2 separate regions of the Homo sapiens genome follow, and region 1 is linked to region 2. Evidence: fine-mapped expression QTL. A gene starts in region 2. The other region holds a variant in brackets. All regions are shown on one strand. Distances are from middle to middle. Region 1 has its middle 66 kb from the start of FAM182A. Region 2 holds the start of PYGB (glycogen phosphorylase B).

Evidence for each region. PIP is the estimated chance that this variant, and not a neighbour inherited with it, causes the effect. A credible set is the group of variants that fine-mapping cannot tell apart.
Region 1: its variant is the best candidate, but not a certain one, in a credible set for the expression of PYGB in whole blood (INTERVAL, PIP 0.54).

What each region holds. Positions count from the first base shown.
Region 1 is chr20:26,118,770-26,123,161 of GRCh38, reverse strand. No RefSeq gene overlaps it. Among named protein-coding and RNA genes, the nearest start is that of FAM182A, 66 kb to the right of the region's middle. The variant G/A (reference allele first, on the strand shown) is at 2,152.
Region 2 is chr20:25,246,107-25,250,498 of GRCh38, reverse strand. It overlaps PYGB (glycogen phosphorylase B), which reads right to left and starts at 2,414. Exons shown (of 20, transcript NM_002862.4): 1 at 2,078-2,414. The coding sequence starts at 2,320. RefSeq lists silencers at 1,771-2,150, 2,461-2,650, 2,661-2,850, 3,031-3,110, 3,129-3,382 and an enhancer at 2,301-2,380.

The sequences.
Region 1 (4,392 bases), 870 kb before region 2:
AGTCTCACCCTGTCACCCAGGCTGGAATGCAGTGGTGGTATGATCTCTGCTCACTGCAACCTCTGCCTCCTGGGTCCAAGTGAATCTCCTTCCCCAGCCTCCCAAGTAGCTGGGATTACAGGTGCACGCCACTACACCTGGCTAATTTTTATATTTTTAGTAGAGATGGGGTTTCACATGTTGGTCAGGCTGGTCTTGAACTCTTGACCTCGTGATCCTCCCGCCTCAGCCTCCCAAAGTGCTGGGATGACAGGTGTGAGCCACCATGCCCAGCCATAATTTTCGTATTTTTAGTAAAGACAAGGTTCCACCAGGTTGGCGAGACTGGTCTTGAACTCCTGACTTCAAGTGATCCACCTTCTTCTGCTTCCCAAAGTGCTGGGATTAGAGATGTGAGCCACTGCACTTGGCTGGTTTTGAAATATATTTGTTCTTAGAAGTTGAGTGAGTGAGTGTTGTTCGGTTCAGAAAATTAGTTCAATGTAGTGCCGACATACCACAGTTCACAGTTGGATATTGTTACATTGTACTGCTGTCTTGGGACAGCGCTTTATGTAGAGGGCATCATTTTTCTTTCATTTAAGAATTATGTATTTATTATTATTTTTTGAGATAGAGTCTTGTTCTGTTGCTCAGGCTGGAGTACAGTGGCACGATCTTGTCTCACTGCAACTTCTACCTCCTGAGTTCAAGTGATTCTCATGCTCAGCCTCCTGAGTGGCTGGGATTACAGACATGTGCCACCATGCCCGGTTAGTTTTTGTATTTTTAGTGTAGACGGGGTTTCGCCTTTTTGGCCAGGCTGGTCTCAAACTCCTGGCTTCTAGTGATCCACTTGCCTAGGCCTCCCAGAGTGCTGGGATTACAGGCATAAGCCACTGTGCCTGGCCAGAATTACTTATTGAATATGTGTACCCATAGATTTATCAAATAATTATATTCTTATTAAAATTTTTCTTTCAATATCATACTTTATAAGAGGTAGGATAGTTTAACTAAAAAGCTTTTTCTTTAGCTTCCATTTGTTTCTCTGTCTTTAAGTAAGATGTCATAATGTCAAAAGAGGCTGCAAATAAAATACCTTGTCAGTGGCATTCCCCCAGATTAGATCTTAACCAAAAGGCTGAGAAGCAGTAGCTTTTTTCCCCCCAAAGGGAAGAATGCTTTAGTTTATTTTACAGGAGAAAATTCATTCCAGTACAGCACCACTCTGGTCTTGTACAAATTACCGAATTCACTTAGATAATTTCTAGTCTTTCCTCTCCTGGATGCTGGACTCAGTAATAAGTTTAGGAGGTCGGCTTTCTTTAAATTATCCCTAGGTTGGAGGATTTTAGGTGTCGGGATGCCCAGGGTGGTGGTCTTTCTTAGCCTTGTCTTGCCTAACGTAATTTTAGAATTGGTCTAGAGCTGGACAGCTTTGTGGGAACTGGTGTGACCTAATTTGCTTCAGTTTAATAACTAATATTTTAGCATTTGAATGTCATAGAGACATTGCCCTATCCCATACTTTTGTATCAGGAGGTTTTATTATTTTATCAGTTAAAAATTGCATATTTTGTAAGATCCTTTTTCTGCTTTGGTGAAATGTAGGCTTCACCTCTATTGTGACGCTTGGTGGATCTATTCTTGCTCATCTGAAGTGGCATCTGCAGTCCTGCCACTGTGAAGTACATTTTTTTCTTTTTTTTTCTTTTTTTTTTTTTTTTTTGAGATGGGGTCTCACTCTGTTGTCAATCTGGAGTGCAGTGGCACGATGCCAGCTCACTACAACCTCCGCTTCCTGGATTCAAGCGATTCCCCTGCCTCAGCCTCCTGAGTAGCTGGGACTACAGGTGTGTGCCACCATGTCTGGCTAATTTTTTCTTTTTTGTATTTTAGTAGAGATGGAGTTTCACCATGTTGGCCAGGATGGTCTTGATTTCCTGACCTTGTGATCCACTGGCCTTGGCCTCCCAAAGTGCTGGGATAACAGGCATGAGCCACTGTGCCCGGCCATTTTCAGCTTTTTTTCCAAGGTAGTTTAGGCCACCTTGAACACCTTTGCATAACATATTTTCGTTATGCAAAGGTTATGGGCCAAAAGCCAGGAGTTCCTGCTGAGAGGAAAAATTGCTTGTTTTTTGGCAGGATAGTATTTGAAATTTTGTT[G/A]TTGCAAGATTTTCCTGTTGAGTAAATATGTGTGTGTTTATTTAATATGAGAAGATTTAAAAAGGAACTTAAATAGATCAATTTCATTTTGCAATATTGTATTACCTGTTTGCAATATATAAGAGGCTAGTTCTGGGTTTATCTGTATAATTCAGTTAGAAGTGCTATTGTCTTTTATGACAGTGACATATAATTATTACTATATTATTCTCATCCTAAAACATTATGTGTTGATATGTAAGAGATGAGGAAGTTGCTCATAAAATCTTGATCAGATTTCTTAAATAATTCATAGAATTTTTTTAGTTCATGAGTCAACCATGTAACTACCCTGAGTTAATGAGTTTTGGTGCTAAGAACTGAAATCATAATTTGATACTGCCACTTAAGGTGCTCCCTTCCCCTTCAGTCTGAACTTTAGATTCTTTCATTTCAGTGGGTTTCAAATGTAAAGTATTCTGCCGAGGTATCTTAGTGAGCCAGGACTGGAGTGAAGGGTGGAGGGAGGGATGGGGAAGGGCAGGGGGAGACTGAAAAGATGAATCCTAGGTCTCCCATTCTCACTAGATCAGAATGTTTCCCCATTGTACCTTTTGTACATTTAGCTTTCATTTAAGACTTTTGAGGAAAACATTCTGGTTAAAAAACAACATCTGAGCACTCTTGCCATGTATCTCGTGGATAAGTTTTGAGGAAGGAGGTTGTAGTGGTCTCCAGGCTGCAGTTCATGAGAGGACAGGAAGGGCTTGCTTTGACCTGTAAATTTGTATGCCAGTAGGGGCTAATTTCCTGATTTTGCTAGTGTTTTTACTTTTTTTTTCCTTCTGTATTGGGCGAACAGTACTTTTAAATAAAACTGACTTTTTTGGTTTTTTTTTTGAGATAATAATGTTAAACTCCATTAAAGTCATACCACAAAACTAGGACAACAGGAAGGATTACTGAGATGAGGGAAAAAATGGAGAAGTCACTTAACTTGTGACTTTGAGAGACATTGAGTGTAATTGTTGAACTCAGGACTCACCATAGCTGAAAGTTAAACAATGTGCATTAAAAAATTGTACCTCATGGGTTTCTAATCATTTAGGCCACTGTTAGAAAAAAATGAGATGACCCTGGGTTAAAATCTTTTTTTTTTTGACTCTGCATTCCATTTATAGCTTTATTTATTTGGGATGTCTGAGTTGGGAGGAGAGTGCAGAGATAGATCACTTAAAGCATGTTTTAGGACAGCAGATCAGAATTAGTTGGACAACTTTTATAAAATGCATGAACGTTCATATAGTGAAATACTCTTTTGTTTTTGGACAGAGTTTCATTCTTGTTGCCCAGGCTGGAGTGCAACGGCATGATCTCAGCTGACTGCAACCTCTGCCTCCTGGGTTCAAGTGATTCTCCTTCCTCAGCCTCTTGAGTAGCTGGGATTAGAGGCATGTGCCACCATGCCTGGCTAATTTTTGTATTTTCAGTAGAGACGGGGTTTCAGCATGTTGGTCACGCTGGTCTCGAACTCTCAACCTCAGGTGATCCACCTGCCTCAGCCTCCCAAAGTGTTGGGATTACAGGCGTGAGCCACTGCGCCTGGCTCATAGGGTGAAATACTCTTTAGCAATAGAAAGAACCATAGATGCATGAGAATAATTGCCAAGATATATGTATTTTTTTTGGGGGATGCAGTCTCGCTCTGTCGCCCAGGCTGGAGGTTGGTGATGTGATCTCGGCTCACTGCAAGCTCTGCCTCCTGGGTTCTTCCCACCTCAGCCTCCTGAGTAGCTGGGACTACAGGCGCCCACCACCGTGCCCAGCTAACTTTTTTGTATTTTTAGTAGAGATGGGGTTTCACCATGTTAGCCAGGATGATCTTGATTTCCTGATCTTGTGATCCACCTGCCTCAGTCTCCCAAAGTGCTGGGATTACAGGCGTGATCCACCACGCCCAGCCTACCAAGATATATTAAGTAATAAAAGCAAGATACAGAACAGTGTGTTTCTAGTATGCCACTATTTACATAGGGGAAAAAGTGTGAGTGTATGTATGTGTAGGATATTTCTAAAGGACACTCTAGAAACTAGTAACTTTGGTTGCCTTCTGGGAGGGTAAATGGGTAGCAGCTGGAGGAGAAGGGTGAGGAGATTTTTCACTTTGTATTCTGTGGTACTTTTAAAAACTCTTAAGTCCTGCATATAATGTTTATTTCCAAAAAGATCAACCCTCCCCACAATGCCACATGTTGGCTTTTC
Region 2 (4,392 bases):
TTATTTACACACTGTGAGATCTAAAAGTTTACAACTTTACGACTTACAGACTGTGCGGTTTAAGAGAAAGGTTTCCACCCAGAGCCACCACACGTAGACAATCAAAAGAGATCTCACGGAGGATCAAAAAACCTGTTTTGTTGCAGGGACTATCTTGTTCATGAAGGTCATTTCCGTAATCCCTGAGCCCATCGCTGGCCTCTCCAGGATGTGATTATACATAAATACTCCAATGGGCACCCTAAGGTGTAGAGCTGAGTCCTGGTCCAGCTCCAAGGAAATGCCCTTGAATGTGAAGGCAGAGCTATGTCCTTGCCATCCGCCACTTAGACAATAAAAATGATGTTGCGGGTCGGGTGCGTTGGCTCACGCCTGTAACTCCTGCACTTTGGGAGGCCGAGGCGGGCGGATCACGAGGTCAGGAGTTTGAGACCAGCCTGGCCAACATGGTGAAACCCCGTCTCTACTAAAGATACAAAAAATTAGCCGGGCGTGGTGGTAGGCGCCTGTAATCCCAGCTACTTGGGAGGCTAAGGCAGGAGAATTGCTTGAACCCGGGAGGCGGAGGTTGCACTGAGCCGAGATCGCGCCACTGCACTCTAGCTTCACGCTACAGGGCAAGACTCAGAATTAAAAAAAAAAAAAAAATGGTGCTGTGCATCAGAACTCTCCCAACAGCAGGGAATTCTGGGGGAGCCACTGCTTCTTGGCTGCTTTTCCTGGCAAAGTCATCCCAAGCCCTTGTTATAACCTGTTTTGGCCATTCGTTGCCACTTCTATGTTTTGCATACCAAATATGAAGAGCCCCAGTTGGTATTCTAACAAATCTGTCCCTTTTACCATCTCCATTTTAGAAAAAAGAATGTCCCAGAATAAGTTTGGAAAAGCAGTCAATCTCTTAGCAATTACCGTATTAAACATATCTTAATGCCCTACAAAAATATTCTAAAATACCATCCATAAAGCAAGTGCTCACTGCCTAGATGTACACTGCAAGTAAAATCTTTGCCAAGTGGCTTCAGGTCTGGAAGTGTGTCTTTTCCTCACCAGTTCTCCCTCTACGTTAGTGTAGTAGAAAGACAATTCTCCATGGTCAAGAGTTTAAAAGCAAACGACAACAACAAAAAACTGGCAACAGGGGGCTGTGCAAGACTACCATGTACCTATCAAACTGAAAACTACCATCCTATCCATTGACCTGCAAAGCTGTTTATCAGTGAAAAAGTTACAAATGTTTACGAATGAAACAGAAAATCTAAAAAACTGTATGTGCATTATACTTTTTAAAAATGTGTATGTATATTTAGGAATACCAAAAACACAGCAAGAACACAGGCCCATAGTAAACATGGTTAAGAGTAACGGGGACAATCAGTGACTTTGTTTCACTACTCAAACAAATTTTTGCAAGATATAAAAAGTAACAATTAGTAAGATGATCTCTGTCAACTTCAACCCAAGCAAATTTCTCCAAGGGAGGTGTGGGAACCTCTAAGACAGAGCCTTCTTCGAGGGCTCCATCTCCATCTCTGAGCTTCGTACCCCTCCCTGCGTGAAGCAGGCATCTTCAGTGATTTTCTTCTAAGCAGCGTACACAAAAAAAAGTCTCACAATTCCCTGCAGATTACCGAGCTCACCCCATTCCAACCCACAAGGCTGCCCAGGCCTGGTTCCAGTCCCATTTTCTCCCACAGGCTGCTGCAGGAAAACAAAGAGTGGCTGGAGGCAGGGGCGGGGAGCACCGGCTCTGCAGCCAGCGCGGAAGCGCACGGCCAGAAAGAGACCGGGAACGTCCGCCAGGCTCCCGGGCTCAGCATCATCTGCGGGGGACGGCGGACCCCGCCAGGCGCGGGCTCCCAGTGGGGCGGACCCGTGGCCGCGGCCCTGCGCAGGGGACGCCCGGGCCCCGCCGACTGCGGCTTCCAGGCGACTCCCCAGTCGGCTGTGCCTGGCCGCCGGCCGGCTAGGGGCGCAGGTAACGCCCGACGGGCCGCCCCGCAGAGACCCCCGCTGGCGCGGCTCCGGGACCGGCGCCCTCTCAGCGGGCACGGGCGCACAGGGCGGGGCAGCGCCTCACCTTGGGGTCGCGCTCGTAGTAGTGCTGCTGCGTGCGGATCCAGCGGCCCACGAGGTGGTCGCGCACCGTGTGCGCCAGCGCGAAGAAGTAGTCGCGGGGCGTGGCCACATTGCGGTCCTTGACCAGCGTGAAGTGCAAGTGCCGGTTGAAGCTCTTCCGCACCTCGGCCACGTCGCCTAGCCCCGCCAGGCCGCGCACGCTGATCTGCTTCCGCTTCTCGCTGTCCGTCAGCGGCTTCGCCATCGCGCCGGCGGAGGCGGAGGAAAAGAGATGGAGGAGGAAAGCGGCGGCACACGCGAACGCCGGGATGGTGCAGCTGCTCTGGCGCCGCTGCTCTGGCGCCCGGCACTGCGGCTCTGCGGGCGGGATGGACCGCGCCTGCGCGCCGCGCCGGGGCGGGGCCTCGGGGGGCGGGGCGGGGCCTCGGGAGGGCGGGGCGGGCGTCCAGGCTCATAGCTGAGATCTCTGGTGTAGTCCGAGGCGGCAGCGACCTGTCCACGCCACCTGAGCGTGGTGTTTGCCCCCTCGTTGGGCAAGCCCGGCAGAAAGTGGGAGCGACTGGAGGGGGCAAGGGACCCGGGGCCTCGGAGCGTGCCGTCGTGGCCGCTCCTGCCAGCCCGGGGACGGTGCGGGAAGGGGGCCCTGCCCTCCGGCCCTCGGGTTCCTGGGACCGGCCCTCCCGCCCTGCACCGGGTCACCAGGTGCCCCGCGGGAGCGCGCTGGGCTCGGGCTGTGGCCGAGACCTGGTACACGTTCGGGGAAACTGATTACAGCTTGAAAGGCATCCACCAACGCCTGCTGGGCCCGGTCTTCTCTGTCCGGGGCAGGGCGGCTCTGAAAATACCAGCTATTTGCTTGCCACTCCAGGCCGATGACAGACGTGGAGAAAACCAGCTGCCAGCGAGCTGGAGACGCCCGTTCCCGAGGGCGCGAGGCAGCCACAGCCAAATGCCACCACGACCCCGCCTCGGAGGGACCGCAGCCCCCTAGCCCTCGGAGAAACCCTGTTCCCGAAACCACCTGGCAGACGCTGTCCGCTTTGAGATTACAGCAGGGAGAAGGAAACATGCCCGTCTGGCCGGGGAGCTCAGCCACTAACCGAGACTTAGCCTCTGTCATCCCAATCCAGGCTGCAGCTCCAGATAGGGGGCGTCTGCACACAGCTTCCCACACTTGGCCCCGCGGAACACAGTCCTGCTGGCCTCAGCCTGTGGGAACCCTGCTTCATGTAAAGGTCACCTAAACTCTGCCTTCCCTCAACCCCTTCAAACTCTGCCTTTCCCTTCGTTCTTGGGAGGCGCTCCCTCATTGCAGTGGGTCAGTACACCCGATTTTGTGGACCACAGGTTTGCTCCTGGTGGTCTTGGGCTGAAGGGGCTGCAAAGGTTACTGAATTTCGTGGAGGTAAAAATTGCCCGCAGGAAATGTCATGAAAGTCCAGGTGCAGTAGGTTTCCTGGTGTGATGCTTCAAAGTTATCTTCTTACCTGGAGCCCCTTCCAGCTGCAGACTTCAGAGGTCGGAGGTTAATCAATCTGGAATGACCCCACAGCCCACCCAGCTCCAGCTCGGGATTCACTCCTGCACTATGTCCTAGGGATTCTGGAGCCAACAAGATCGAACTTCGGGCACAGATGGCAGGGCTGTGGGGTCGAGCTTGGCTGCAAGCTCCGAACACTGATGCAATCTCTCTGAGGGTGATCTGGCAATTCAGAAGTCATAAAAATGATAGTGCCCTATGACCACTTCTACCACTCTGGGGAATTGAGTTCAAGGAAAGCTTAAGAAGACAAAAAGCAAGTTATGCAAATATGTTATCTGCTGTGGTGTGGTAAAGTTTAATCCCCCAGCTGTGGTGCACACCTGGCAAAGAATGGAGGCGCTGACACTTATTGATCATTACTTGCAGTGTACACGTATTAACTCCTGATCCCTGCAAATAGCCTGCTATTACCCCCGCTTGACAATGGAGAAGGTGAGCCACAGAGAAGTTAACTCTTCCCTAAGCCCACACAGCTAATAAGGGAAACAGCCAAGGTTCACCCCAGCCAAGCCCTGCTCCACTGCACAAGCCCAGAAAAATGTATCTGTGCTCAAAGTTAATATCATAAACCATTGTGCTGCTAAAAGGAATGACTGTTTTAATAGCTAGCTAGGAAGGTGTGATTGATGACACAATACTGATAAATGAAACACAAAAATAAGGATGTAATGCAGAAATGACAGTAATGATTTGAATATTACTTTCATTTAGTCAATTTAAATTTAAATTAAATAACCACATGTGGCTAGGGACTACTGTGTTAGAAACACAGG